Regions from separate parts of the Homo sapiens genome. Here regions 2 and 3 are each linked to region 1. Evidence: fine-mapped expression QTL. A gene starts in region 1. Each other region holds a variant in brackets. All regions are shown on one strand. Distances are from middle to middle.

What was found.
Region 2: its variant is fine-mapped to the expression of NOD1 in whole blood (INTERVAL, PIP above 0.99).
Region 3: its variant is fine-mapped to the expression of NOD1 in whole blood (TOPMed, PIP above 0.99). The same link has a PIP of 0.9 or more in aorta, blood mononuclear cells, breast, cerebellum, esophagus mucosa and esophagus muscle.

Annotation. Positions count from the first base shown.
Region 1 is chr7:30,473,787-30,484,146 of GRCh38, reverse strand. It overlaps NOD1 (nucleotide binding oligomerization domain containing 1), which reads left to right and starts at 5,363. Exons shown (of 14, transcript NM_006092.4): 1 at 5,363-5,541. RefSeq lists a silencer at 5,235-5,474 and an enhancer at 5,123-5,867.
Region 2 is chr7:30,414,907-30,425,266 of GRCh38, reverse strand. NOD1 (nucleotide binding oligomerization domain containing 1) reads left to right here. Exons shown (of 14, transcript NM_006092.4): 14 at 1-740. Among named protein-coding and RNA genes, the nearest start is that of LINC01176, 29 kb to the right of the region's middle. RefSeq lists an enhancer at 5,049-5,652. The variant C/T (reference allele first, on the strand shown) is at 5,538.
Region 3 is chr7:30,440,984-30,451,343 of GRCh38, reverse strand. NOD1 (nucleotide binding oligomerization domain containing 1) reads left to right here. Exons shown (of 14, transcript NM_006092.4): 6 at 1-128; 7 at 2,963-3,046; 8 at 4,294-4,377; 9 at 5,120-5,203. Among named protein-coding and RNA genes, the nearest start is that of NOD1, 33 kb to the left of the region's middle. RefSeq lists an enhancer at 1,318-1,818 and a silencer at 5,346-5,505. The variant T/G (reference allele first, on the strand shown) is at 4,961.

The sequences.
Region 1 (10,360 bases):
CGAGCAATTATGTCTGACAGAAGGGAAGAAATGACCGCGGTGGCCTTCTCAGACCCTGTGGGAAAGGCCTCTACCTATCTAGTGAAAGCGTATACCCAGACCAAGAGGTATTTTAGTTTTCTGACTCGGGGCATGTGAGTAAAGTCAATTTACCAGTCCTGGGCAGGGGTAAATTCTCGAGCTTGATGTGTAGGGAAGGGAGGGGGCCTGAGAAATCCCTGAGGAGAAACAGAATAGCAGATGGAACACTGAGAAGTGATTTTCTGAGGATAGATTTTTACAATGGAAAGGAAATGAGAGGTTTTAAGAGATGGGCTAGCGGCTTGTAACCTACATGGAAGAGGTTATGAAATGATGACAGAATAGAATGGGCCTGTGAGGCTGGAAAGAGATATTTTCCTTGGTCCTAGAACCATTTGCCTTATGTGGGAAGAGATTGATAAGTGGAAGTTTCAGTGGGACAGTAGGTGGGAGTGACCGAAGAGAAGGATAAAAACTGGCCATGAGGGACAGAAGTTGGAACTCTAGCTGCTTCTTTAGCTACCTTATCAGCATAAGCATTGCCCTGAGTGATGGGATCTGATGCCTTTTGATGGCCCTTGCAGTGAATGACTCCAGCTTCCTTTGGAAGTAAAGTGGTCTTGAGAAGAGTTTTTATTAAAGAGGCATTAATGATGGAGGACCTTTGCGTAGTGAGGGAACCTTTTTCTGCCTATATAACAGCATGGTGGTGCAGGATATGGGAGGCATATTTAGAGACAGTATAAATATTGACGTGTAGTCCTTTTGCAAGAGTGAGGGCTCAAGTTAAGGCAATGAGTTTGGCTTGCTGAGAGGTAGGGGAGCGGGGCAGAGTGGTAGCCTCAAGGATAGATGTGGAAGATACTACTATAGCATAGCCTGCCTTTGCTGGTGAATGGCAATTAGGCCTGGTGGAACTGCCAACAATAAACCAAGTGCGATCAAGGTGAGGAACAGGAAAGAAAGAAATATGGGGAAATGGAGTGAATGCCAGGTGGATTTAGAGAGATACAGTCATGGGGGTCAGGTGTGGTATCAGGAATAATGGGGGCTAGCTAAAACAGTAGGGTTAAGTTATTTGGACAGAAAGGCTACAGGGCACAATCCCAGCTCTTGTGTAAGAATTCTGACTGCACAGCCCTGCACTTCGGCTGTGTGTAATGAAAAAAGGGTTGGGATGAGTTACGGAGAGCTAGTGTGGGAGCAGCTTTTAGGGCTGTTTTTTAAGGAACGGAAAGAGGAGTGGGGAAAGGATTTAGGATTAATGGGGTCAGCTAGGTTTGCTTTTGTGAGTTTATATAATGGTTTAGTCAGGATGGTAAAACTAGGTATCCAAAGGCGGAAGTACCTACCCATGCCTAGGAAGGAAAGGAGTTGTTGTTTTGTAGAAGTGGCTGGGGTTTGGGAGATTAGCCAGTCAGGATCAGCAGAGAGAGCATGTGTTTTTTCATGAAGAATTATGCCAAGACAGGTAATGGATGAGGAAGAAATTTGGGCTTGACTGAAGCAATGGGGGCTGTCCATGAAGCCTTGTGGCAGTACAGCCCAAGTAAGTTGCTGAGGCTGATGGATGTCAGGATCAGTCTAAGTGAGAGCAAAGAGAGGCTGGGATGAAGGGTGCAAAGGAATAGTAAAGAAAGCATGTTTGAGATCCAGAACAGAATAATGGGCTATGGAGGGGTTGTGGAGGGAGGTATTGAGGATAGGAGAGTATATGGGTTTGGCACCACAGGGTGGATAGGCAAGACAATTTGGTTGATAAGGCGCAGATCCTGAACTAACCTGTAAGGCTTGTCCGGTTTTTGGACAGGTAAAATGGGGGAATTGTAAGGAGAGTTTATAGGATTTAAAAGGCCATGCTGTTAACAGGTGAGTGATAACAGGCTTTAATCCTTTTAAAGCGTGCTGTGGGATGGGATATTGGCGTTGAGCGGGGTAAGGGTGATTAGGTTTTAATGGGATGGTACGGGTTGCGTGATCGGTTGCCAAGGAGGGAGTAGAGGTGTCCTACACTTGTGGATTAAGGTGGGGGGATACAAAAGGAGGATGCAAAGGAGGCTTTGAACTGGGAAAAAGGGCAGCATTGAGGTGTGGCTGTAGCCTAGGAATAGTCAGGGAAGCAGATAATTTAGTTAAAATTTCTCGACCTAATAAGGGAACTGGGCAGGTGGGGATAACTAAAAAGGAGTGCATAAAAGAATGTTGTCCAAGTTGGCACCAGAATTGGGAAGTTTTAAGAGGTTTAGAAGCCTGGCCATCAATACCCACAACATTTATGGAGGCAAAGGAAACAGGCCTTTGTAAAGAAGGTAATGTGGAGTGGGTAGCCTCCGTATTAATTAAGAAGGGGATGGACTTACCCTCCACTGTAAGAGTTACCCAAAGCATCTGTGATGGTCCAGGAGGCTTCTGAGGCGATCGGGCAGCGTCAGTCCGAGAAGATCTGTAAAGGAGTCAGTCAGAGAGCCTTGGGCCAGACAGAGTTCCAGGGGCTCTAGCAGTGGCTGCTGGGCGAGTTGGACAGTCTGATTTCCAGTGGGGTCCTGCACAGATGGGACATGGCTTGGGAGGAATCCCGGGCTGCACACATTCCTTGGCCCAGTGGCCAGATTTCTGGCACTTGAAGCAAGATCCTGATGGAGGAGGTCCTGTAGGAATGCTTGACCACTGCGGCTTAGGCATTCTGATGTTCTTGTGTGCTGGAGGTGCGGCTGGGTTTTGTCTTACAGCAGAGGCAAGTAATTGTAACTCAGAAATGCATTGCTGTCTGGCTGCCTCCTTTCTATTATTGTACACCTTGAAGGTGAGGTTGATTAATTCCTTTTGTGGGGTTTGAGGGCCGAATTCTAATTTTTGGAGCTTTATGTAACGTCGGGAGTGGATTGGGTACTAAAATGCATACTAAGACAGCCTTCTGACCTTTCAGAGTCTAGGGCTGTAAAGTGTCTAAGGGTTGTTGCCAAAAGAGCCATGGACTGGGCTATGTTTTCATATTTGATGAAAAAAAGCCTAAATGCTAATTGATTTGGGAGAGGTTGGATAAAGAAAAAGGAGCATTAACCTTGAGGAAATTGTTGGGTAGGTAGGGGAGGGCTAGTTGCGGAACGAAACTGTAAGCTGGACCGGGTGTGAGGAGGTGAGGTGATAGAAGGATTATAGGGTGGGGGAGTGGAGGCAGAGGAAGAATTGGGACCTGGCTCAGCCTGGCGAGGAGCAGCCTGGGGAGGAGGGGAGAGGTTAGATGGGTCCATAGAAAAGGAGGATTCACAGGACTCAGAGCTTGGGGTGGAGACTGAAGGAACAGACAGGAGAGAAAGAAGATTTGGGATGAGTCACATTGGGAGCAGAGATTAGGAAGGGACCAATGTGTAAAAGAATGCCTGGACATCAGGCACCTCAGACTATTTGCCCATTTTACGACAATAATTATCTAGCTCATGTAGGATGGAGAAATTGAAAGTGCCGTTTTCTGGCTATTTGGAACCATTGTTGAGTCTGTATTGGGGTCAAACGGTATTGCAGAAGAAAATAAGGCGTTTAGGTTTTAGGTCAGGTGTGAGTTGAAGAGGTTTTAAGTTCTTGAGAACACAGGCTAAGGGAGAAGAAGGGGGAATGGAGGGTGGAAGGTTGCCCATAGTGAAGGAGGCAAGCCCAGAGAAAAGAAGGTAGAGACCCGGAGAAGGGGGGTGGTGAGCAGCCCTGGGCTGCAATGTGGCTGAGCAGCCAAAGCAGGCGACCCACAATTGACTTGCCACCAAGGGAATGTGGGTGAATGACCAAGGCAGGCATCCCCACGGTGATCAGACACCAATGAAATGTACGTGAATAATCAGGCAGGTGTCCCTGCAGTGATTAAACACCAAGGGACGACTGTTTTCCTGAGTCCGTGACCGGAGCTGGAGTTTTGGGTCCATGGATAAAATATGTCTCCTTTGTCTCTACTAGAGAGGAGAAAGAACTGGAATTGGAAATAGAGGGAGATTTAAGGGTAGTGAGAGAGGCTGGAGAAGACAGTGAAAAGACCGCTTACCCGATTTGAAATTGGTGAGATGTTCCTTGGGCTGTTTGGTCTGAGGACCCGAGGTCATAGGTGGATCTCCTCACAGAGTGAGGGTGAGGACAGGGGACTGGTCTCCTGAAGGAGTCCTCCTGTCCCGGGTCTTCGGCACCAAATGTCACACGTGTCCGTGTGAAGAGACCACCAAAAGGCTTTGCGTGAGCAATAAAGCTGTTTATTTCACCTGGGTGCAGGTGGGCCGAGTACGAAAAAAAGAGTCAGCAAAGGGAGTTAGGGGTGTGGTAGCTTTATAGGATTTGTGTGGGTAGTGGAAAATTACAGTCAAAGGGGGTTGTTCTCTGGTGGGCAAGGCGGGGGCCGGGGGGGTGGAAGGTCTACAAAGTGCTCAGTGGGGGAGCTTCTGAGCCAGGAGAAGGAATTTCACAAGGTAATGTCATCAGTTAAGGCAGGAACCAGCCATTTTCACTACCTTTGTGATTCCTCAGTTGCTTCAGGCCATCTGGATGTATACATGCAGGCTTGGGCTCAGAGGCCTGACACAAGTTGGCACATTTGATCCTATCAACTTTAGTTTGCACTTTCACTTTTGATTTAAGAACATACTTTCTGTTTCTCAGAGGGCAGCCTCTGATGGGAATTTTAATACTCACAAGCATCAGTGGCTATATGATTGAATGTACTTCTTCAGTGTGAGTAAGTGACAACTTTCTGTAGCATGATATCCCTTATGGACACGATCCCCATTCAAAACGTTTTAAAACTATTTTATTGGGGACATTTATTAGCATGTTAAAACTCTTTTACAACCTATTAGAGCATATGCATAGAACATAAAATGTACACTGCCAAGAACAAATTTAAGGATAGGAAGAAAAGCTTACATTTTTTAAAAAGTATAAATTGAAATGTATGCAGTGTAATTTAAATTTGATTACGTTAACCTCCATTTCATCAGGACCACGTGTCGCGTTTTAACAAGAGTTTCCCTATCATGTCCAGGCTTTGGCTCTGGTTGCAGGCGCTGGGTAGGCACTTTTACGAGGAGGGACCTGGCACGATGGCACCACAAATTCCCAAGTGTGTCACCTCTGGGCGAACTTGGGCCTGTCCACTCGGCCCTGCGCGGTGGCCAGGGGCTCACCCTCTCGCACCGGGCGTCCCTCTGCGCGCAGCTTCTCTCGCCCCCCCGCGCCAGACCCGGGCGAATGGCAGCACCGTGGGACCCTGCCTTGACCGCCCCCGCCCTTCGGCGGCCTCTCCCAGCAGCCGGCAGGCTCTTGGGCGCGCCAACAGAGGGGCGCGGCTGCGGCTGTAGTCGCAGCCAGTTCCCGTTCCGGGCCCGCGAGGCAGCCGCCCCGGTCCTGCCCCTCCCTCGCGCTACTGCGGGAGCAGCGTCCTCCCGGGCCACGGCGCTTCCCGGCCCCGGCGTCCCCGGACCATGGCGCTCTCCGGGCTCTTCTCTAGCTCTCAGCGGCTGCGAAGTCTGTAAACCTGGTGGCCAAGTAAGTCCCAGCGACTGGGGATTCGCGCGGGGCAGGCCCTTTCTGAGGTCCTGGGCGCTGCGAGTGAGGAGGCGCAGGGAGGCGGGATTTGCGTGCGGGCGGAACGCAGCGCGGCTCTGGAGGAGCTCTGGGTGGAACCAAGCGGAGAAACCCGCGAGTTTGAAGCATGTAGCGAAAGTTGAGAGGGATGAACTTCACAGTCAGCGGAATCGTTTATCCCACTGTGGTCGAACGCAGGGGTTCTCAATCGTGCCAGCAGCTTAGAACCACCTGGGGAGCTTTTAAAATCCAGATATCCAGGCTGCACCCTAGATCAATTCCATCAGAATCTCACGGAGTCAGACCCAGGCCTCCGTATCTTTTAAAAGCTCCCCAAGTGATTCCAGTGTGCAGCCAGCGTTCGAGGGTTTGTGGCAAAGGCTGGAAGGGCAGACAGGGGCCTTCATGGAGTCCCGCCTGCAGACGGGACAGCAGCTCCCAGTGTCCTGCTTGGTCCTGGAGAGAGGGTGAGAACTTCCCTTGGGTTTCATGCTCCACAAAGTAAGGAAATGAGACAATGCTTGGCAAGGTCGCCTGAATATCACATTCAAAAACGCCTCCAATGTGTGCAGTTGTTTTGGCACATTGTGAAAAACATAGGAAATGACAGAGGTTGATGTCTCATTAGCTCTGCATTCTAGGAAACATTTCGGTTGTTGGTGTTTGAAATTAAGTCTGGGGAAGCTAAGCTAGTAAACCCATGGCCTTGATGACTTCTGGCCTTTCTGCTTTAAGGGTGAAGCCAGGGCCGGGCGCGGTGGCTCACGCCTGTAATCCCAGCACTTTGGGAGGCCAAGGCAGGCGGATCACCTGAGGTCGAGAGTTCGAGACCAGCCTGGCCCAACATGGTGAAACCGTCTCTACTAAAAAAAAAAAAAAAAAAAATTAACCGGGCGTGGTGGCGCATGCCTGTAATCCCAGCTACTCGGGAGGCTGAAGCAGGAGAATTGCTTGAACCCGGGAGGCAGAGGTTGCAGTGAGCCGAGATCGCCCTGTTGCGCTCCAGCCTGGGCAACAAGAGCAAAACTCCGTCAAAAACAAACAAACAAACAAAAAACAAAAAAACGGTGAAGCCAGAAGTCGTGCTTGCCAAAGGGTCGAGTTTGTTCTCCCTCAAAGCCCCTGTTGAAGATTGAACTATCACTTTCAGGGAAGAGTAAAAGAGTAACTCCACGATGCATCTTAGAGAGGAGTGGATTCCCTGTTCTCACCCAGGCTTAGATGCCAGGGGCCAGGTAGCTGAAATCCAGGCAAACCAGGCATTGACAAAGTACAGACTTCTACCGAATATGCCAGACAGATAAGCAAGCTGTGTTTAAAACAAACAGCAGAGTGGTAGAAGAGGGCTCTTTCAAATATTGTAAGAAGAGTAGGTTTTATTTTTGTGGAGTGGAGAAATAAGTTCACGCTTTGGAACCCATCAAATCTGGGTCAAAACTCGGATTCTGTCACTTCTATGCTGTGACTTTGGGCAAGTTCCTTGACCTCTCCAAGCCCCTGTTTTCCCACCTGTAAAATAAAGAGCAACCCTCTCCTGAGGCTAGCATAGTTCAGCGAGATGATGTGCATCACACACCTGGAAGGTGGTGGCGCTGGCAGGTGCTCTGGCAGAGGTAGTTATTAGACACTGGAGTGGCAGTTTGTGCCCGTTAATTGTTTACTTAGTACAGCCACTATGAGGGAGAATGTCTATAAAATGTTCCCTTCAACGCTCCATTCCTTCTCCTGCCCTGCTGCCCCGCTCAGGGCCTTAGCGGGCTTTAAGTCTGAAATCTTAGGCTGCAAATCCCCTCAGTCCCCCAGGGCGTATTAATGGCTCTGGAATACAGTTTTACTGCATGTGATAGGAATGAATATTTTGACACACACACACTCAAAAGCTGTTCTTAATCTTGAGACTTCCTCCTCTCTGTTGCCACATATATATCTTTTAAATGGCTTTCCAAGAAAGCTGGGCTGTGCACAGTGTCTCAGAATTAGTGTATGTGCACACACACGCACGTTGCTCCCTGCTGACAACATCCTCAGACCATACCCTTGGTGTTCCTGTTTTGCTCCTGACTCTTGGCCTAGGGACAGTGAATCTTTCTTGAATGACCAAGGACAGTCAGGGATCTGAGGAAGGGAGAACCCAAATTCTACAATTGCTGATGCCTGCGTCCCAGCTGGAACTTTACCCTGGTACGTGCTCTGTGCATCATGGATGGTCACTTTGATCCTAACAGCAGTGCTGTTTAGATTAGACATCAGAAATAGAAACAGTAAGTAATATAGGCATAAAGATCAAGTGTTTTTCTAGTGTATGTGTGATCACTGATATTTGCTTACACAAGACTATCAAAGTCTTATCTCTTATTCAAAGAAAAGGATTCAATATTTGTTCAAAATCTAAGATATGAACGTAGGATTTAAGGTTTAAGTTACTAGTTTCTTCTATCATTCTTATTATTGGGGGGATTTTTTTTAGGCAAGAAGAAATTAGAAAAGCTAAAATGTGTACTTATGCTGAATTTTTGTCATGCAGAGGCTCTAGGTATTTTGCAAGTTTTCAGAAGTCCCATTTTCTTTTATCTTCTAGGGACAGTCAGTTGCATGTCACACAAGGGGCCTCCTTTGATTTATCCAAAAGGTCTGACCTGGTTTCTGGAAAAACTCTTTAGCGCATCAAATACTCGTTGAGGGCAAGTGTTGTTTCTAAACTTGACTCTTGTGGTGAGAGGTGAGTAGTCACTGGCATGTCAGTTAGCTGACATTTTTTACCCACGCTAGAAAGTTCATTCAGGCAAGACTTCCTGGCTTGAACTCTTATTTAAACATGTGTTTTATCTGGAACTGCCACAGTCCAAACTGTGGGCAGAGATTCCTGTGCAGAGTTGGCTAAGGCAGGCATGCCACCGGCCCTTCTCTTCGCCATCCTCCCTGTCTCTGGAGCCATTGAGCCAACCGGGGATGATGCCACTCTGAAGGGATCTCACCTTGGTCCTCTAATGGGGCAGAGTTCCCTGATGAGGGATGCACGTCCTTAGAGCCAACAAGGCAATTTTGTATTATACTGCATGGAAATTAAAAGTTACTCTCCAGTAAACTGCCACTTTAGAATTTGTTTTACTGAAGCGTCCTTTTCCTCTAAATTATAGAGCACTGTAGTAAGGGCCCAGATAATTTCAAAGTGAGCACCAGATTAGTGCCAGATTTTGGCAGATTAAGATTTTAATAAAACATGAACATTCACCTTGATTACATTTGTTTCAGAAAGTTGATGTCCCTTGGCCTTCTGTTCTGTCATTGCCACCATACAGGTTAGGGTCAGAATTGGGAGAATGTAGTCATTTGGTAGATATTTTCAGAGCCACATGCAACTGGGCCTGGCAGTCACATATTGCTAAGGAAACGCCTTACATGATAGCAGAGCTGAGAGCAGATGATGATTTACTTGGGAGAGTATTCGTTTTCTAATTCCCAAAAGATTAAAAGTCTAATGAGTAAGAACTTCCCCTGCTTCTTGTAACACATGCCCAGATTGCTGCCTATGACCTCAAAACCAAACCTTCTTGGAAGGAACTGGGGGAAAGCTAGGCTTTTTTGGCAGGGGATATCCTAACTCCTTACAACACAGGCCCCTTCAGTGAGTGGGTCATTTCTGGACTCCATTTAACAAAGCTAGTGTTTCATACTTAATATGAAAACAGGCGTGTTGATGATTTCAAATAGAGATGTTGGGTCTATAAAGTATACCAGACATGCAGGGCTGAAATGGAAGAAACAATGGGTTTTGGAGTCAGAACCAGGATCCAATTCCTGTTTTATTCCTTACTTCAGGGGTCCCCAATCCCTAGGCCATGGACCAATACCAGTCGGTGGCCTCTTAGGTGGGCCGCACAGCAGAAGGTGAGCAGCAGTGAGCAAGCATTACCGCCTGAACTCTGCCTCCTGTCAGATCAGCGGTGGCATCAGATTCTCATGCGAGGGGAACCCTATGGTGAACCGCACACGCGAGGGATCTAGGCTGCACATTCCTTATGAGAATTTAATGCCTGATGATCTGAGGTAGACAGTTTCATCCTAAAACGATCTCCCCTGTGCCCCTACTCGCCGCTGTCTGTGGAAAAATTGTCTTCCATGAAACCAGTTCCTCGTGCCAAAAAGGTTGGGGATCACTGCCTTAACTAACTGTGTGACCTTCACCAACATACTTAACCACTCCAACTCTGTGTCCTCCTTTGTAAACTAGTTACAATAATGCTTTCCTTGCTGGGCAGTTTTCAGTATTTGATGAGCTAATCTATGTAAAGTGCTTAGCACATCACCCAGCTTCTAGTAAGTCATGATTATGATGATAAAGATTATGATGATTACTTTGGTTCCAGGGCTGGTCTTTCCTTCTCCTAGTTGTGTGACTTCAGATAAGGTTTTTAATCTTCTTGAGCCTTGGCTTTTGAATCTGTAAAATGGGCTAACTCTACCTATCTGGAAAGATTGCTTTGAGGCTTGATTTGATTAAATGAAATGATGACAGGCCTGATCTGGTAGACCCTAAATAAGAATAGCATTTACATAGACTTCCTGTGTCCCACACTGGTCTAAGAGTTTAGGGTTTTTGTTGTTTGTTTTTAGCTCATTTTATCTTCCCAGCGCCCCTGTGCAGTGGTTATCATTTCCCTTGTTTTATAGAGGAGACAACTGAGGCTCAACAAGATTAAATAACTAGCCCAAAGTCTATCCCAGGACTTGAAGCAGAGTCCCTGTTCTTAACCACTGCCCCAGCTGCTCAGTGAGTACC
Region 2 (10,360 bases), 59 kb after region 1:
AGTTGGTCACCGCTCTTTTCATTGAAGAGTTGAGGATGTGGCACAAAGTTGGTGCCAAGCTTCTTGAATAAAACGTGTTTGATGGATTAGTATTATACCTGAAATATTTTCTTCCTTCTCAGCACTTTCCCATGTATTGATACTGGTCCCACTTCACAGCTGGAGACACCGGAGTATGTGCAGTGTGGGATTTGACTCCTCCAAGGTTTTGTGGAAAGTTAATGTCAAGGAAAGGATGCACCACGGGCTTTTAATTTTAATCCTGGAGTCTCACTGTCTGCTGGCAAAGATAGAGAATGCCCTCAGCTCTTAGCTGGTCTAAGAATGACGATGCCTTCAAAATGCTGCTTCCACTCAGGGCTTCTCCTCTGCTAGGCTACCCTCCTCTAGAAGGCTGAGTACCATGGGCTACAGTGTCTGGCCTTGGGAAGAAGTGATTCTGTCCCTCCAAAGAAATAGGGCATGGCTTGCCCCTGTGGCCCTGGCATCCAAATGGCTGCTTTTGTCTCCCTTACCTCGTGAAGAGGGGAAGTCTCTTCCTGCCTCCCAAGCAGCTGAAGGGTGACTAAACGGGCGCCAAGACTCAGGGGATCGGCTGGGAACTGGGCCAGCAGAGCATGTTGGACACCCCCCACCATGGTGGGCTTGTGGTGGCTGCTCCATGAGGGTGGGGGTGATACTACTAGATCACTTGTCCTCTTGCCAGCTCATTTGTTAATAAAATACTGAAAACACTCTTACGGGTTGAGTCTGGAGTTTTTGAAGGGACTTGGCTTGGTAAGCACTCATTGACTCCTGAGCCCCATCCTGATTCACTCCACAGTGGGGAAGGGGCTCTGGGGTGATGTGCTATGAGGAGAGCCTGATGAAGGCCAGGGGTGTCACCAGTTTGATCCTTCACAGGCCTCTCTGCCTACCAAGGGACAGGAAGCGGCTGTGGCAGCCTCTGAGGTCTCTCCATCTGGCCTCTGAATCTCTTCAGGTGGCTTCTCAGAGGAAATAACTTGTGAGTAGGGGGTGGCTGGTGCCAGGACAGGCCAAGTGGGCCAAAGTTCATGCCTTCATCACCATGCCATGGTAGAGCCCACGGGCCAGGTTCGACGTCCACTACCTTCCTCGGCTGTTCACTGCTGAGTGGCGGATCCAGGTAGGCCCATGGCAAGAAGCACCGAGCTGCCAGGGGCAGCACGTGACAGAGGAAGGCATGCAGGGCCTCCAACGGTCCACCTCTGAGTTCTTATGAGTCCAAGCCTGGCTTTGTAGAGCAGCCTGTTAGGAAGGGGACCGTTGCGGGGGAAATCCTGTACAGTTAAGCAACTACAAGGCGGCAGTTCCTTAAAGGCTCGATTTTGGTGGTTCCTACGAGGTCCCTCCCAACCCCAGACCTGAGTATTCACCTAATAATCACCCCAAGGCAGCCACTCTCTCCTTACTGCAGAATCTGGGCAGCAAATATGCCCAGAAAGAAGAAAGAAGGGAATGAGCATGGCCCACTGAAGGCCAAAGGGGGAGTACCACAGACCTCAGACTCGCCAAGTCTTACCACAAAGTTCACTTCTCAGCAGACAAAATTCACATTTTATTAAACTGCTAAAACTAAACCCTTGAGAGTCTAAAATTTACTCAGAAACTACCAAATGTTATTGCTTTTAGAGACTATCAAAATTAAAACTGCTGCTTCTAGGGAATTAGAATTTGTGTGGTATTGACTTAAATTCTATTTGGAAATACTTTGATCTTCCAGATGGCAAGTGGTAGATTTTCTATTCCTCCTGTAAAACTGAGACCAGGCTCCTAATTTGATGGAAAGGTTCTCTTATTAGAAACAGGTGAGCTTCTGAGCAGAAACATGGAGACTTTTCCTAATCAAGAAAAAGACAATTGAAAAAAAAAATTCTGTAAACGAGGGCTATATCTCTTTCTTTCCACAGGACATCTTGATTGATTTTGGGAAAGAAGCTACAGCTCCCATATTTCACACCTGCACTTGTGTCATGTCCATGCTGACATGGAACTTCTTTAAAAAGCCATGTGGAGCCACTGTGTGGCCATGTGGTATTAGCTCTCTGGAGCGCCCTAGCTGTGTGGCTTTGGAGCACTCTTAAGACGGCCAGAATCTTGATTTCCTCCTTGGAAAAACTGAGAGAATCTGACTCAAAAGGTTGTTGAGAGGATTAAATGAGTCATGGAAAGTAGCTGGCACAAAGCCTGGCACAGAGTCCTGCTCAACGTATGGCAGTTAGTTACTATCAAGCCAGCGGGTCTCATTTCCGCTCACCGTGGGACTCCCAAGTTGTCCCCTTCTCACTCATAGGCTCAGGGAACTTTCCAACAAGGTCCAATACAGGACTAGGAGTTCTCAAAGTAAAACCCCAAAGTATTCAACATCAAGCTTCCTGCAATATCCTACCTTTGTCAGTGAAAAGCATAGCTGTTAGTTTTCATTATTATTACCAAAGACCATACTGCCATTTAAGTGTCAAGTCACTGAACATAGGGGGCACCTGTGTCTTCACAGCACAAAAGAACAGGGCAGGAGCTGGCACCACCCTATGGAGCCAGGCCCATGAGCCTTTGCCAAGCGGGAAAGCGCTTTCTGCTCATCCATATTTTGGTTCACTTCCAGGTGGACCACAGGTCTGTTTCCAGTAACCAACTGCTTACTTACAAGAAAAAAACCTTGCTCTAGAGCTGAAAGGCAAAACCATGACCATTAACCCAGGATCATGAAGAAGAATTTTAATGAAAGTAGAATGGCATTATGAGGAGGCTGAGACTCATTTTACCAGAGGACATCCCAACACTACTCTCTCAACCTTAAAATGGAATGAACTGCACCCAAGACCAGCTTAAGACTCTTAGAGACATTAAGTACTGAAAAGGTTATAGGCCCCTCTGGATCTATAATGAAAATATTTAAATACTAAATTATAAAGTAAGTGCAAAGATGTTAAACAAGTTTCTAATCTTTCCCATGACTACTTGGGTGTTTTTTCAGACCAATAACAAATATTAAAGTGTCTCAATTTTTTCCTGGACTTTTTTCTGTTATAAAGTGCATTTATTTTTGTTGTCAAAGTAATGTTGTTACCCAGTGTAACGTCTGTGTGACCTAAGTAAATTTCTTCCCCACCTTAACTCTGGTTATCTTTAGGAAACGGGATGTCTGTGGTCAAAAGCTCCCCATCATGACACCAAACCAGCTAAGAGTGGTGGGAACCAAGATGGCAGCTCACTTGACCTCTGAAGAACCTCTAACTTCATTATAATCTAATTTCCATGCTAAATGACCCTCCCCCCAGTGCCAAGACAGCTGACAATCACCATGACAACGACCAGAAGAAACCATAAAAGGACAAAAAAGGGGGACAAAAACTCTGGTTCTGAGAAGTTATCTACCTAATTCCCAGAAAAGACATGAATACTTTTCCCCTTGCTTTTAATTCCCCAACCCCTTCATTAAAGATGCTCCATATCTGTGACTTCCTGGCTCTCATGGGGAATGTCCTATATTTGTGATTTCTTGGCTGTCATAGGGGGATGCCCTATCCCTCATGGGCTGAGAAGTTGATTTGTGAGCCAGGCTCCCACATCTCAGTTCTATGGGCATCAAATAAAGCCTGCACTGCTAGATGCACACTTTCAATTTTGTGTATTGGCTTTGTGGCACCAAATAGGAAAATACTCCATTTTAGGGGGGATTAGCCTTGTCAGTAATGTCATAAAGGGAAAAATTTAATGTTTATAGTAACACAACACTAACACAGCTATTTTAATTTTTGTATGTAATCTTCCATGCTCTGCCTACTTTGAGACATCTTTTTACATAATTATAATCACAGAGTACATTAGCAGTTCTTTTTGTCATTTTCCCACACTGTTAGTCTCTATTATTTATTAATATATTCTACCAGTTTGAGAATTTGCTTAATAATATTCCAGACGTTCAGGTTAGACCTTCAAGTTTCCAGATTGACTGTGGTGGTGGTCACTATAGACAATATTTCTATGGAATTAAAAAATTCTTTATAGTTATTTCTTTGGAATGAGATTATCAAGGCAAAGATTCTTGCTATTAATTAGCCAGGTATAGTGATGTATAACTGTGGTCCCAGCTACTCCAGAGGCTGAGGTGGGAGGACCGCTTGAGCCCAGGAGGTCTAGCCTGTAAGTGAGCCTGGGTGACACAGTGAGACCCTATCTCAAAACAAAAACAAAACCAAAAACAAACAAAAAAACCCAGACCGTTGCTATGAAATATTATTTTTTAACCTATGTCAAGGGTGTAGTAAGTTTGGAAGCAAGTGAAAATTAGAGACCAATGTAATGTGAAGCCAGCAGTGTCTCTTTTGAATAGAATAAAACTCCCTGCCCTAACCTTCACACCAGACCAGTGTTCAGGCACCGCCCATACACATACGTGTGCTATGCCAATGACTGGCTGCAGGGAAGAATAAATGAACACATCAGCATCTGTTTTAAAGTGGCACTGTTGAAGATAACCACTTACTAGTGGGCAAGTGTCACAATCTTTAAAATCAGTTTTCCTTCATGTAAAACCTTTTTATTTATAAATATGTGTATGTGTCCTTCCTTTGCCTAAACAAACCCAGCCTGGCTAAACCCATGAACATCAGGCCAAATAAAAACTTCCTCCCAATGACCCTGTGAAGTAGAATTATTTCCTGAATGAGGAAACTGAGGACTAATAATATGAATATGTATCTTACTAATCAGGATTTGTATAAAAATTAAAAAAAAGCGGAGGAGCCAAGATGGCCGAATAGGAACAGCTCCGGTCTACAGCTCCCAGCGTGAGCGATGCAGAAGACGGGTGATTTCTGCATTTCCATCTGAGGTACCGGGTTCATCTCACTAGGGAGGGCCAGACAGTGGGCGCAGGTCAGTGGGTGCGCGCACCGTGCGCCAGCCAAAGCAGGGCAAGGCATTGCCTCACTTGGGAAGCGCAAGGGGTCAGGGAGTTCCCTTTCCGAGTCAAAGAAAGGGGTGACGGACGCACCTGGAAAATCGGGTCACTCCCACCCAAATATTGCGCTTTTTGGACCGGCTTAAAAAACGGCGCACCACGAGATTATATCCTGCACCTGGCTCGGAGGGTCCTACGCCCACGGAGTCTCGCTGATTGCTAGCACAGCAGTCTGAGATCAAACTGCAAGGCGGCAGCGAGGCTGGGGGAGGGGCGCCCGCCATTGCCCAGGCTTGATTAGGTAAACAAAGCAGCTGGGAAGCTCGAACTGGGTGGAGCCCACCACAGGTCAAGGAGGCCTGCCTGCCTCTGTAGGCTCCACCTCTGGGGGCAGGGCACAGACAAACAAAAAGACAGCAGTAACCTCTGCAGACTTAAATGTCCCTGTCTGACAGCTTTGAAGAGAGCAGTGGTTCTCCCAGCACGCAGCTGGAGATCTGAGAACGGGCAGACTGCCTCCTCAAGTGGGTCCCTGACCCCTGACCCCCGAGCAGCCTAACTGGGAGGCACCCCCCAGCAGGGGCACACTGACACCTCACACGGCAGGGTA[C/T]TCCAACAGACCTGCAGGTGAGGGTCCTGTCTGTTAGAAGGAAAACTAACAAACAGAAAGGACATCCACACCAAAAACCCATCTGTACATCATCATCATCAAAGACCCAAAGTAGATAAAACCACAAAGGTGGGAAAAAACAGAACAGAAAAACTGGAAACTCTAAAACGCAGAGCGCCTCTCCTCCTCCAAAGGAACGCAGTTCCTCACCAGCAACAGAACAAAGCTGGATGGAGAATGACTTTGACAAGCTGAGAGAAGAAGGCTTTAGATGATCAAATTACTCTGAGCTACGGGAGGACATTCAAACCAAAGGCAAAGAAGTTGAAAACTTTGAAAACAACTTAGAAGAATGTATAACTAGAATAACCAATACAGAGAAGTGCTTAAAGGAGCTGATAGAGCTGAAAACCAAGGCTCGAGAACTACGTGAAGAATGCAGAAGCCTCAGGAGCCGATGCGATCAACTGGAAGAAAGGGTATCAGCAATGGAAGATGAAATGAATGAAATGAAGCGAGAAGGGAAGTTTAGAGAAAAAAGAATAAAAAGAAACGAGCAAAGCCTCCAAGAAATATGGGACTATGTGAAAAGACCAAATCTACGTCTGATTGGTGTACCTGAAAGTGATGGGGAGAATGGAACCAAGCTGGAAAACACTCTGCAGGATATTATCCAGGAGAACTTCCCCAATCTAGCAAGGCAGGCCAACGTTCAGATTCAGGAAATACAGAGAATGCCACAAAGATACTCCTCGAGAAGAGCAACTCCAAGACACATAATTGTCAGATTCACCAAAGTTGAAATGAAGGAAAAAATGTTAAGGGCAGCCAGAGAGAAAGGTCAGGCTACCCACAAAGGGAAGCCCATCGGACTAACAGCGGATCTCTCAGCAGAAACCCCACAAGCCAGAAGAGAGTGGGGGCCAATATTCAACATTCTTAAAGAAAAGAATTTTCAACCCAGAATTTCATATCCAGCCAAGCTAAGCTTCATAAGTGAAGGATAAATAAAATACTTTACAGACAAGCAAATGCTGAGAGATTTCATCACCACCAGGCCTGCCCTAAAAGAGCTCCTGAAGGAAGCGCTAAACATGGAAAGGAACAACCGGTACCAGCTGCTGCAAAATCATGCCAAAATGTAAAGACCATCGAGACTAGGAAGAAACTGCATCAACTAATGAGCAAAATCACCAGCTAACATCATAATGACAGGATCAAATTCACACATAACAATATTAACTTTAAATGTAAATGGACTAAATGCTCCAATTAAAAGACACAGACTGGCAAATTGGATAAAGAGTCAAGACCCATCAGTGTGCTGTAGTCAGGAAACCCATCTCACATACAGAGACACACATAGGCTCAAAATAAAAGGATGGAGGAAGATCTACCAAGCAAATGGAAAACAAAAAAAGGCAGGGTTTGCAATCCTAGTCTCTGATAAAACAGACTTTAAACCAACAAAGATCAAAAGAGACAAAGAAGGCCATTACATAATGGTAAAGGGATCAATTCAACAAGAAGAGCTAACTATCCTAAATATATATGCACCCAATACAGGAGCACCCAGATTCATAAAGCAAGTCCTGAGTGACCTACACAGAGACTCAGACTCCCACACATTAATAATGGGAGACTTTAACACCCCACTATCAACATTAGACAGATCAACGAGACAGAAAGTCAAAAAGGATACCCAGGAATTGAACTCAGCTCTGCACCAAGCAGACCTAATAGACATCTACAGAACTCTCCACCCCAAATCAACAGAATATACATTTTTTTCAGCACACCACACCACACCTATTCCAAAATTGACCACATACTTGGAAGTAAAGCTCTCCTCAGCAAATGTAAAAGAACAGAGATTATAACAAACTATCTCTCAGACCACAGTGCAATCAAACTAGAACTCAGGATTAAGAATCTCACTCAAAACCGCTCAACTACATGGAAACTGAACAACCTGCTCCTGAATGACTACTGGATACACAACGAAATGAAGGCAGAAATAAAGATGTTCTTTGAAACCAACGAGAACAAAGACACAACATACCAGAATCTCTGGGATGCATTCAAAGCAGTGTGTAGAGGGAAATTTATAGCACTAAATGCCCACAAGAGAAAGCAGGAAAGATGCAAAATTGACACCCTAACATCACAATTAAAAGAACTAGAAAAGCAAGAGCAAACACATTCAAAAGCTAGCAGAAGGCAAGAAATAACTAAAATCAGAGCAGAACTGAAGGAAATAGAGACACAAAAAACCCTTCAAAAAATTAATGAATCCAGGAGCTGGTTTTTTGAAAGGATCAACAAAACTGATAGATCACTAGCAAGACTAATAAAGAAAAAAAGAGAGAAGAATCAAATAGACACAATAAAAAATGATAAAGGGGATATTACCACCGATCCCACAGAAATACAAACTACCATCAGAGAATAGTACAAACACCTCTACGCAAATAAACTAGAAAATCTAGAAGAAATGGATAAATTCCTGGACACATACACTCTCCCAAGACTAAACCAGGAAGAAGTTGAATCTCTGAAGAGACCAATAACAGGAGCTGAAATTGTGGCAATAATCAATAGTTTACCAACCAAAAAGAGTCCAGGACCAGATGGATTCACAGCCGAATTCTACCAGAGGTACAAGGAGGAACTGGTACCATTCCTTCTGAAACTATTCCAATCAATAGAAAAAGAGGGAATCCTCCCTAACTCATTTTATGAGGCCAGCATCATTCTGATACCAAAGCCGGGCAGAGACACAACCAAAAAAGAGAATTTTAGACCAATGTCCTTGATGAACATTGATGCAAAAATCCTCAATAAAATACTGGCAAAACGAATCCAGCAGCACATCAAAAAGCTTATCCACCATGATCAAGTGGGCTTCATCCCTGGGATGCAAGGCTGGTTCAATATACACAAATCAATAAATGTAATCCAGCATATAAACAGAGCCAAAGACAAAAACCACATGATTATCTCAATAGATGCAGAAAAAGCCTTTGACAAAATTCAACAACCCTTCATGCTAAAAACTCTCAATAAATTAGGTATTGATGGGACGTATTTCAAAATAATAAGAGCTATCTATGACAAACCCACAGCCAATATCATACTGAATGGGCAAAAACTGGAAGCATTCCCTTTGAAAACTGGCACAAGACAGGGATGCCCTCTCTCACCACTCCTATTCAACATAGTGTTGGAAGTTTTGGCCAGGGCAATTAGGCAGGAGAAGGAAATAAAGGGTATTCAATTAGGAAAAGAGGAAGTCAAATTGTCCCTGTTTGCAGACGACATGATTGTATATCTAGAAAACCCCGTTGTCTCAGCCCAAAATCTCCTTAAGCTGATAAGCAACTTCAGCAAAGTCTCAGGATACAAAATCAATGTACAAAAATCACAAGCATTCTTATACACCAACAACAGACAAACAGAGAGCCAAATCATGAGTGAACTCCCATTCACAATTGCTTCAAAGAGAATAAAATACCTAGGAATCTAACTTACAAGGGATGTGAAGGACCTCTTCAAGGAGAACTACAAACCACTGCTCAAGGAAATAAAAGGATACAAACAAATGGAAGAACATTCCATGCTCACGGGTAGGAAGAATCAATATCGTGAAAATGGCCATACTGCCCAAGGTAATTTACAGATTCAATGCCATCCCCATCAAGCTACCAATGACTTTCTTCACAGAATTGGAAAAAACTACTTTAAAGTTCATATGGAACCAAAAAAGAGCCTGCATCGCCAAGGCGATCCTAAGCCAAAAGAACAAAGCTGGAGGCATCACACTACCTGACTTCAAACTATACTACAAGGCTACAGTAACCAAAACAGCATGGTACTGGTACCAAAACAGAGATATAGATCAATGGAACAGAACAGAGCCCTCAGAAATAACGCCACATATCTACAACTATCTGATCTTTGACAAACCTGAGAAAAACAAGCAATGGGGAAAGGATTCCCTATTTAATAAATGGTGCTGGGAAAACTGGCTAGCCATACGTAGAAAGCTGAAACTGGATCCCTTCCTTACACCTTATACAAAAATCAATTCAAGATGGATTAAAGACTTAAACGTTAGACCTAAAACCATAAAAACCCTAGAAGAAAACCTAGGCATTACCATTCAGGACATAGGCATGGGCAAGGACTTCATGTCCAAAACACCAAAAGCAATGGCAACAAAAGACAAAATTGACAAATGGGATCTAATTAAACTAAAGAGCTTCTGCACAGCAAAAGAAACTACCATCTGAGTGAACAGGCAACCTACAAAATGGTAGAAAATTTTCGCAACCTACTCATCTGACAAAGGGCTAATATCCAGAATCTACAATGAACTCCAACAAATTTACAAGAAAAAAACAAACAACCCCATCAAAAAGTGGGTGAAGGACATGAACAGACACTTCTCAAAAGAAGACATTTATGCAGCCAAAAAACACGTGAAAAAATGCTCATCATCACTGGCCATCAGAGAAATGCAAATCAAAACCACAATGAGATACCATCTCACACCAGTTAGAATGGCAATCATGAAAAAGTCAGGAAACAACAGGTGCTGGAGAGGATGTGGAGAAATAGGAACACTTTTACACTGTTGGTGGGACTGTAAACTAGTTCAACCATTGTGGAAGTCAGTGTGGCGATTCCTCAGGGATCTAGAACTAGAAATACCATTTGACCCAGCCATCCCATTACTGGCTATATACCCAAAGGACTATAAATCATGCTGCTATGAAGACACATGCACACGTATGTTTACTGCGGCATTATTCACAATAGCA
Region 3 (10,360 bases), 33 kb after region 1:
TGCAGCGCCCTCTCCTTCGTCCTGCATCACTTCCCCAAGCGGCTGGCCCTAGACCTAGACAACAACAATCTCAACGACTACGGCGTGCGGGAGCTGCAGCCCTGCTTCAGCCGCCTCACTGTTCTCAGGTGAGGCTGCCAGGCAAGGGGAGCAACAGGTGGGCCGGGCGGGCCAGGCTCGGAGGGCATCGGGAATGGCATCATGGACCAGGATCCCCCAGGACTCATGACCATGGCCCTTGGAATGTCCAGACCTTTTCTTTCTTAGCAGGGCAGAGGTCAAGGTGCAAAGCTTCGAGGCAGGTGGACCTGGATCAGCCACAGCTGGGTGCCCTTGAACAAAGTGCTTAACTCTCAGAGCCTCCACGCCCTCATCTGGAAAAAGAAGATGCTCATAATCCTATCAATTATGGCCACAGGGACCAATGTTAGTTGAGAATGGGTGAAGTGCATTACAAATATTACCTAATGGAATGCTCTTTACAACCCTGTAACTTAGGTACTGTTATTGTCTCTATTTTGGCAGATAAGGAAGTAGAGGCACAGAGAAGTTAATAGCTTGCTTTAGGTCACACAGCTCAGACATAGCAGTGCCAGAATGCATAAAGAACCTTCCTTTTAAGATTAATGTAAGGCTCCGAGATAGCCCTCAAAAAGTTTCTGGAATATGGGAGCTTTTATTACTGCAGAGAAAGCAGACCTTGTGCCAGTTGGCACTGGTGACTTTCTGTGATCAACGCTAGCAGCCCTTCACACTGCTAGAGACCTCAGTTAAAATGCTGACTCGTGGTTGTTTTCCTGTTCCATAGTTTACGGGAAACAGAGCCCAGTCTGTTTTCTTCTATTAGCATTTCCTATGTAAAATAAACCTTGTAAATCTCTACAGGGGGTTAAATTTGCCATTACTTGACTCATGCATTTCTAAAAAGCAGTAGGGATTTGGAACTGACTCCCAGTGCCTGTCACACCAGTGTCAGAGTGTAAATAATTGCATGGGGACATGGGGTGCAGGGGGTCGAAGGCTGCCCTAGCCTGGGAATTGGAAAACCTGGAGTCTGTTCTCTGTACTCTCAGCCAGTGACTCTCCCTCTGTAGCCCCAGGCAGTCTCACACTCAGTGCCACCCTCTGTCCATCTTTTTTTTTTCTCCCCCAAATGGAGTCCCGCTCTGTTGCCCAGGCTGGAGTGCAGTGGCGTGATCTCAGCTCACTGCAACCTCCGCCTCCTGGGTTCAAGCGATTCTCTTGCCCCAGCCTCCTGAGTAGCTGGGATTACAGGCACACGCCACCATGTCCGGCTAAGTTTTTTGTATTTTTAGTAGGACGGGGTTTCCCCATGTTGGCCAGGCTGGTCTTGAAATCCTGACCTCAGGTGATCCGCCCGCCTCGGCCTTCCAAAATGTTGGGGTTACAGGCATGAGCCGCCGCACCCGACCCCTCTGTCCATCTTTTCAATGGGAAACTCCACACCAGTGTGGTGGCCCTGCCCTTCCTGCTGTCCCCAGGTGAAGCTTTCCTTCACACCAGTGCAAGAAAAAACAGCTTGTAGGAAAGCAGAGGATATGGGTAACCACGGGAAGCACACTCAGTTCTCTGGCTGCATCAGTTAGGATTAGTTTTAGCTGAGAGCGAAAACCCCAAATGTTGGTGAGTTACAAGCTTATTTCTCTCATGTAAAAGTCTAGAGGTAGGTAGTTCAGGACTGGTATGGAGTCTCCATGACCCTCCGGAGCCCAGGCTCTCTTCTGCCTTCCTGTTCTGCCATCCTCACTACCCGGCTTTCCCATCTTGGCCCAAGAGGGCTGCTCAAACTCCAGCCATCTAGTCGACACTCTAGCTATCAGTAAGAAGGAAGGGCAAAGATTGAGAGCATGCCTCAATCTTTTAAGAACACTTCTTGGCTATTACTAATTATATTGCTGCTTAGATTTCAGAACTTAATGGTATGGGCAGAATTTAATGAGATGGGCCCAGCTAAAAGATGGGGGAATCTATTGCTAAGAAAGTATAGATATTGGGAATGTCTAGCAGCCTGTGCTGTCTTGGGCTGGCCATGCCATGTACATACACACTATTTCCCAGCACCAAGCTGGGGACTCTGAGGGAAAGGGTCCAGAGTGTCTGACTTGATCATTTTGATGTGGCCTAAAAATCAAGCTTTTAATTGTTCAGCCTTTTACTTGTTATCAAGGTCAGCTTGTGGGTCTAATTGGGCCCAAGGCTTGTGTTTCTAAGTAAAGTTTTATTGGAACGCAGCCATACCCATTTATTTACTTACTGGCTGCTTCACACTACACAGTTGAGTAGCTGTGACAGAGACCACATGGCCCACAGAGCCTAAAATATTTGCTGTCTGACACTTTACAGAATGACATGAGCAGTCTCCTTTGACAGTGGGACTCACAGCCTTTTCCAGTGACAAATCAGGGTTAGCCCATGTGTTTCTGGATGGGGGGAAGCTGTTGGCATTTTGGGTATAACAGTTCTTGTGAGACCTGTCCAGCATTTTGCAGGACACCTAACATCATTGGCCCTGCCTGCAAGATGACAGGGCACTCCCTCCTCCAGTCACAACCACTAAAAGCAGCCCCTGACATTTCCAAACCCATGCCCTCCACCATACGAGAACCAGGTACAGGGTCTGGCTGACACATAGGTCACACGCAAAGGGTGGATGTCAGAGGTGGCTGGCCTCACACGTCCTCCCTGTGTCCTTCACGGTCGTGTGAGGAGCCAGGGGCTGTGCTGCAGCCTCGCTCATGGGCTGGTGCAGGATGGGTCTGGCGGCCCCACGTTGGCCAGGCTTTGTAAGGGGCTATTTGGCTGATTGCTGTGGCCATTCTCCAGGGGCGTCTATACCTGAGAAAACTCCAGGGCCTGAAGGCTTCTGGATCTTTGTAAGATTAATGGTCCTTCATAATGAGTGCCTGCCCTGACTCGTAATTTTTTTGCTGTTTTATTTCAGACTCAGCGTAAACCAGATCACTGACGGTGGGGTAAAGGTGCTAAGCGAAGAGCTGACCAAATACAAAATTGTGACCTATTTGGGGTATGTCTTTCTCCAGAACACTGGGCCAACTACCTAGTAATAATACAGAGCTGCAGGGAATTCACATTCCCATAGGTCCCTGGATGATCGGCACGGATGGCCCAGGGCTGGGAAGAGCGCTGGCCCAGGAGTTGAGAGTCCTGGGTTCTCTTTGTGGCTCGGCCAGTCATGAAGTCTTGCTGAGCCTCAGCCTCCTCACCTGTAAAACTGGGATCCCAGTATAGGCAAGTAGGCTTACAACTGGTTATTGGGGGATGCAACGAGAATATAAGGGGATATATTTAATAAATGCTAGAATCCTGTTTACATATTAGTCTGGACTATTTTGGGTCCATAATCCCTCATCCAGAGCCTTTGGGGCAAGACCCGAATGGGGATTCTGAGTGCATGCTATGGCATGACGTGGCCGCAGGGGTCTAAGGCAGTGCCCCATTTTCAAACACTTTCATATTTCTCCCGCAGAATGTATGAAACAGTCAAACCAAGTGTGGTAAGAAAGACTATAAGTAGCTCCACATCAGTTGCCAAAAGAATTGTGAGAAACTTTGGGCATTCAGAGCCTTTGAGGTTTTGGAGTCTGAGAGAAGGGATTGCGGGCCAGCCCCACACAACTGGTGGCTCTGCAAGCTGGAGCAGTTGTTCAGTTTCTTGGGGCCTCAGTGGCCTTCGATGTTAATGAGGACATGGACGCAAACGACCCCGGGCCACACTCGGCTCCAGGGCTCTGTGTGGCTGTGGAACCCTGGAAGCCTGAGCTTAGCTGCCTTTCAACTTCCATCTGCTGTACTATTGAATTGGCATTGAGCGGTGAGATGGCTGAAAGGTAGACATCGAGAAGTTTTAATATTCAGAATCTTTTCTTCTCAAGACGCTGAATGTAATCTTAGTTGTAAATACCCATCACCTGCCAGTCACCGAGCACTCATGCACCAGGGCTTTGCGTTATGTCCTAAGATCCTCATAACCACCCTGCAAGGGGACTATCATCATTACCTCTGTATTACAGATGGAGAAACTGAGGCACAGAGAGGTAACGTGACTTGTCTCAGGCCATAAAGCTGGGGAAAGTAGTGGAGCTGGTTTTGAACCTGAGCTGTGAGACCTCAGAGCCCTAAACTCTGGTGCCTGTGTGTTCCCCTTTCAACCCAGACTTTGGAAATCAGTAGACACCATATGCTTCAAAAAACAGGGGCTATTAAAATGACATCAGGAGCCAGAAAGTCTCATGGCTGTGCTTTCTCTTGAAGTTTATACAACAACCAGATCACCGATGTCGGAGCCAGGTACGTCACCAAAATCCTGGATGAATGCAAAGGCCTCACGCATCTTAAGTAAGTGGGGTAGGCACCAGGTTCCTTAGTATATTCTCTTGATCACCCCCTTCTGTTGTTCAAAGATTAAATGTCACAGTAAAGAGCTTTCATCCTAAAGCCTTCCACTTGTCCCAGGGCCATGTTGGTCAAGTAAAGATACCTCTGTGTGATCTGTGAGGCTTGGATTCTGGAAGGGCCTCCCGTTATTGGTAGGGGGAAAGGTTGGCATTTTGATTTCATTAACTACTAGGCCGAAGAAAGGACTAACTCTCACCCTTTCTGGTGGTCTTTTTGCCCCAAGGGAGTTTCCTGTCGGGTTGCAAGGAAGAGCTTGGGCCCTTGCCCTGCTGTAGGTGTGCCCTGCGCAGGGGGTGACAGTGCGCCAGGCTTGGAGCCTCTGGTCCTGCCCTGACAGTGGCCACATACCTTGACCCTTGGCAGTCAAAGTGGGACCTCCCAGGTCTCCCGAGGGAAGTCAGTGATGCTGCTGAGGTCAATTAGAGGACCCCAGGGAGGGCTCAGGTCCCTGAGCTTCTGCAGAGACTGTGGACCATCTCCTGGAGAGGAACCCTGACTGACTGTCCTCAGGGCTTCAGTTCCC[T/G]CCCTGACAGGAGGCCCAGGCCATGGCTCTTGTGGATCCCAGAAGAAAGTGTACGGTTCCCAAGATGGGGCTGGAAGGGGCTCTGTGCTGGGGAGGAGGGTGACCCACATTGGAGCCCCTGCATAGCTGGAGGCTGACTGTGTGTGACTCTCTCTGCAGACTGGGAAAAAACAAAATAACAAGTGAAGGAGGGAAGTATCTCGCCCTGGCTGTGAAGAACAGCAAATCAATCTCTGAGGTTGGGTGAGTAGAAGGGGATGGATGTATGTGGTACAACCTGCTGTGTGTGTGGGGGGCGGGCCTTGCTGTTCTTTTCATACATCAGTACACCAGAAGGACCACTGGGGCTCGCTGTCGGGGAGAGATAGTGGAGAGCTTTCACCATGCTGCGAAACTGAAACCGTGCCCATTAAGCAATAACTCCCCGGTCCCCCTCCCCCCTGCCTCTTGCAGCCACCCTGCTACTTACTCTCTCTATGGTTTTGACTACTCTACCTCATGTAAGTGGAATCATACAGTATTTGCCTTTTGGGGATGGCTGATTTCACTAGCATCATGTCCTCAAGATTCGTCCACATGGAAGCATGGGACAGGATTTCCTTTTTTTTTTTTTTTTTTTTTTTTTTTGACAGAGTCTCGCTCTGTTGCCCAGGCTGGAGTGCAGTGGCATGATCTCGGCTCACTGCAACCTCTGCCTTCTGGGTTCAAGCGATTCTCTCGCCTCAGCCACACGAGTAGCTGGGATTATAGGCACCCGCCACCAATCCCAGCTAATTTTTGTATTTTTAGTAGAGGCGGGGTTTCACCATGTTGGCCAGGCTGGTCTCAAACTCCTGACCTCAAATGATCCACCCACCTCGGTCTCCCAAAGTGTCAGGATTATAGGCGTGAGCCACCGTGCCCCGCCAGGATTTCCTTCTTTTTTAAGGCTGAGTAATACTCCATTGCATGGCTATGCCACATTTTGTTTACTCATTCATCCAAGAACAGACACTGGCTTGCTTCTATGCTTTGGCTGTTGTGAATAATGCTGCTGTGCACATGGGCATACAAATGTCTCTTCAAGGACTGCCTTCAATTCTTTTTTTTTTTTTTTTTTTTTTTTAGATTCTTTTTTTTTTTATTATACTCTAAGTTTTAGGGTACATGTGCACATTGTGCAGGTTAGTTACATATGTATACATGTGCCATGCTGGTGCGCTGCACCCACTAATGTGTCATCTAGCATTAGGTATATCTCCCAATGCTATCCCTCCCCCCTCCCCCGACCCCACCACAGTCCCCAGAGTGTGATATTCCCCTTCCTGTGTCCATGTGATCTCATTGTTCAATTCCCACCTATGAGTGAGAATATGCGGTGTTTGGTTTTTTGTTCTTGCGATAGTTTACTGAGAATGATGGTTTCCAATTTCATCCATGTCCCTACAAAGGATATGAACTCATCATTTTTTATGGCTGCATAGTATTCCATGGTGTATATGTGCCACATTTTCTTAATCCAGTCTATCATTGTTGGACATTTGGGTTGGTTCCAAGTCTTTGCTATTGTGAATAGTGCCACAATAAACATACGTGTGCATGTGTCTTTATAGCAGCATGATTTATACTCATTTGGGTATATACCCAGTAATGGGATGGCTGGGTCAAATGGTATTTCTAGTTCTAGATCCCTGAGGAATCGCCACACTGACTTCCACAATGGTTGAACTAGTTTACAGTCCCACCAACAGTGTAAAAGTGTTCCTATTTCTCCGCATCCTCTCCAGCACCTGCTGTTTCCTGACTTTTTAATGATTGCCATTCTAACTGGTGTGAGATGATATCTCATAGTGGTTTTGATTTGCATTTCTCTGATGGCCAGTGATGATGAGCATTTCTTCATGTGTTTTTTGGCTGCATAAATGTCTTCTTTTGAGAAGTGTCTGTTCATGTCCTTCGCCCACTTTTTGATGGGGTTGTTTGTTTTTTTCTTGTAAATTTGTTTGAGTTCATTGTAGATTCTGGATATTAGCCCTTTGTCAGATGAGTAGGTTGCGAAAATTTTCTCCCATGTTGTAGGTTGCCTGTTCACTCTGATGGTAGTTTCTTTTGCTGTGCAGAAGCTCTTTAGTTTAATTAGATCCCATTTGTCAATTTTGTCTTTTGTTGCCATTGCTTTTGGTGTTTTGGACATGAAGTCCTTGCCCACGCCTATGTCCTGAATGGTAATGCCTAGGTTTTCTTCTAGGGTTTTTATGGTTTTAGGTTTAACGTTTAAATCTTTAATCCATCTTGAATTGATTTTTGTATAAGGTGTAAGGAAGGGATCCAGTTTCAGCTTTCTACATATGGCTAGCCAGTTTTCCCAGCACCATTTATTAAATAGGGAATCCTTTCCCCATTGCTTGTTTTTCTCAGGTTTGTCAAAGATCAGATAGTTGTAGATATGCGGCATTATTTCTGAGGGCTCTGTTCTGTTCCATTGATCTATATCTCTGTTTTGGTACCAGTACCATGCTGTTTTGGTTACTGTAGCCTTGTAGTATAGTTTGAAGTCAGGTAGTGTGATGCCTCCAGCTTTGTTCTTTTGGCTTAGGATTGACTTGGCGATGCGGGCTCTTTTTTGGTTCCATATGAACTTTAAAGTAGTTTTTTCCAATTCTGTGAAGAAAGTCATTGGTAGCTTGATGGGGATGGCATTGAATCTGTAAATTACCTTGGGCAGTATGGCCATTTTCACGATATTGATTCTTCCTACCCATGAGCATGGAATGTTCTTCCATTTGTTTGTGTCCTCTTTTATTTCCTTGAGCAGTGGTTTGTAGTTCTCCTTGAAGAGGTCCTTCACATCCCTTGTAAGTTGGATTCCTAGGTATTTTATTCTCTTTGAAGCAATTGTGAATGGGAGTTCACCCATGATTTGGCTCTCTGTTTGTCTGTTGTTGGTGTATAAGAATGCTTGTGATTTTTGTACATTGATTTTGTATCCTGAGACTTTGCTGAAGTTGCTTATCAGCTTAAGGAGATTTTGGGCTGAGACGATGGGGTTTTCTAGATAAACAATCATGTCGTCTGCAAACAGGGACAATTTGACTTCCTCTTTTCCTAATTGAATACCCTTTATTTCCTTCTCCTGCCTGATTGCCCTGGCCAGAACTTCCAACACTATGTTGAATAGGAGCGGTGAGAGAGGGCATCCCTGTCTTGTGCCAGTTTTCAAAGGGAATGCTTCCAGTTTTTGCCCATTCAGTATGATATTGGCTGTGGGTTTGTCATAGATAGCTCTTATTATTTTGAAATACGTCCCATCAATACCTAATTTATTGAGAGTTTTTAGCATGAAGGGTTGTTGAATTTTGTCAAAGGCTTTTTCTGCATCTATTGAGATAATCATGTGGTTTTTGTCTTTGGCTCTGTTTATATGCTGGATTACATTTATTGATTTGCGTATATTGAACCAGCCTTGCATCCCAGGGATGAAGCCCACTTGATCATGGTGGATAAGCTTTTTGATGTGCTGCTGGATTCGGTTTGCCAGTATTTTATTGAGGATTTTTGCATCAATGTTCATCAAGGATATTGGTCTAAAATTCTCTTTTTTGGTTGTGTCTCTGCCCGGCTTTGGTATCAGAATGATGCTGGCCTCATAAAATGAGTTAGGGAGGATTCCCTCTTTTTCTATTGATTGGAATAGTTTCAGAAGGAATGGTACCAGTTCCTCCTTGTACCTCTGGTAGAATTCGGCTGTGAATCCATCTGGTCCTGGACTCTTTTTGGTTGGTAAACTATTGATTATTGCCACAATTTCAGAGCCTGTTATTGGTCTATTCAGAGATTCAACTTCTTCCTGGTTTAGTCTTGGGAGAGTGTATGTGTCGAGGAATGTATCCATTTCTTCTAGATTTTCTAGTTTATTTGCGTAGAGGTGTTTGTAGTATTCTCTGATGGTAGTTTGTATTTCTGTGGGATCGGTGGTGATATCCCCTTTATCATTTTTTATTGTGTCTATTTGATTCTTCTCTCTTTTTTTCTTTATTAGTCTTGCTAGCGGTCTATCAATTTTGTTGATCCTTTCGAAAAACCAGCTCCTGGATTCATTGATTTTTTGAAGGGTTTTTTGTGTCTCTATTTCCTTCAGTTCTGCTCTGATTTTAGTTATTTCTTGCCTTCTGCTAGCTTTTGAATGTGTTTGCTCTTGCTTTTCTAGTTCTTTTAATTGTGATGTTAGGGTGTCAATTTTGGATCTTTCCTGCTTTCTCTTGTAGGCATTTAGTGCTATAAATTTCCCTCTACACACTGCTTTGAATGCGTCCCAGAGATTCTGGTATGTGGTGTCTTTGTTCTCGTTGGTTTCAAAGAACATCTTTATTTCTGCCTTCATTTCGTTATGTACCCAGTAGTCATTCAGGAGCAGGTTGTTCAGTTTCCATGTAGTTGAGCGGCTTTGAGTGAGATTCTTAATCCTGAGTTCTAGTTTGATTGCACTGTGGTCTGAGAGATAGTTTGTTATAATTTCTGTTCTTTTACATTTGCTGAGGAGAGCTTTACTTCCAACTATGTGGTCAATTTTGGAATAGGTGTGGTGTGGTGCTGAAAAAAATGTATATTCTGTTGATTTGGGGTGGAGAGTTCTGTAGATGTCTATTAGGTCTGCTTGGTGCAGAGCTGAGTTCAATTCCTGGGTATCCTTGTTGACTTTCTGTCTCATTGATCTGTCTAATGTTGACAGTGGGGTGTTAAAGTCTCCCATTATTAATGTGTGGGAGTCTAAGTCTCTTTGTAGGTCACTGAGGACTTGCTTTATGAATCTGGGTGCTCCTGTATTGGGTGCATAAATATTTAGGATAGTTAGCTCCTCTTGTTGAATTGATCCCTTTACCATTATGTAATGGCCTTCTTTGTCTCTTTTGATCTTTGTTGGTTTAAAGTCTGTTTTATCAGAGACTAGGATTGCAACCCCTGCCTTTTTTTGTTTTCCATTGGCTTGGTAGATCTTCCTCCATCCTTTTATTTTGAGCCTATGTGTGTCTCTGCACGTGAGATGGGTTTCCTGAATACAGCACACTGATGGGTCTTGACTCTTTATCCAACTTGCCAGTCTGTGTCTTTTAATTGCAGAATTTAGTCCATTTATATTTAAAGTTAATATTGTTATGTGTGAATTTGATCCTGTCATTATGATGTTAGCTGGCGATTTTGCTCATTAGTTGATGCAGTTTCTTCCTAGTCTCGATGGTCTTTACATTTTGGCATGATTTTGCAGCGGCTGGTACCGGTTGTTCCTTTCCATGTTTACCGCTTCCTTCAGGAGCTCTTTTAGGGCAGGCCTGGTGGTGACAAAATCTCTCAGCATTTGCTTGTCTATAAAGTATTTTATTTCTCCTTCACTTATGAAGCTTAGTTTGGCTGGATATGAAATTC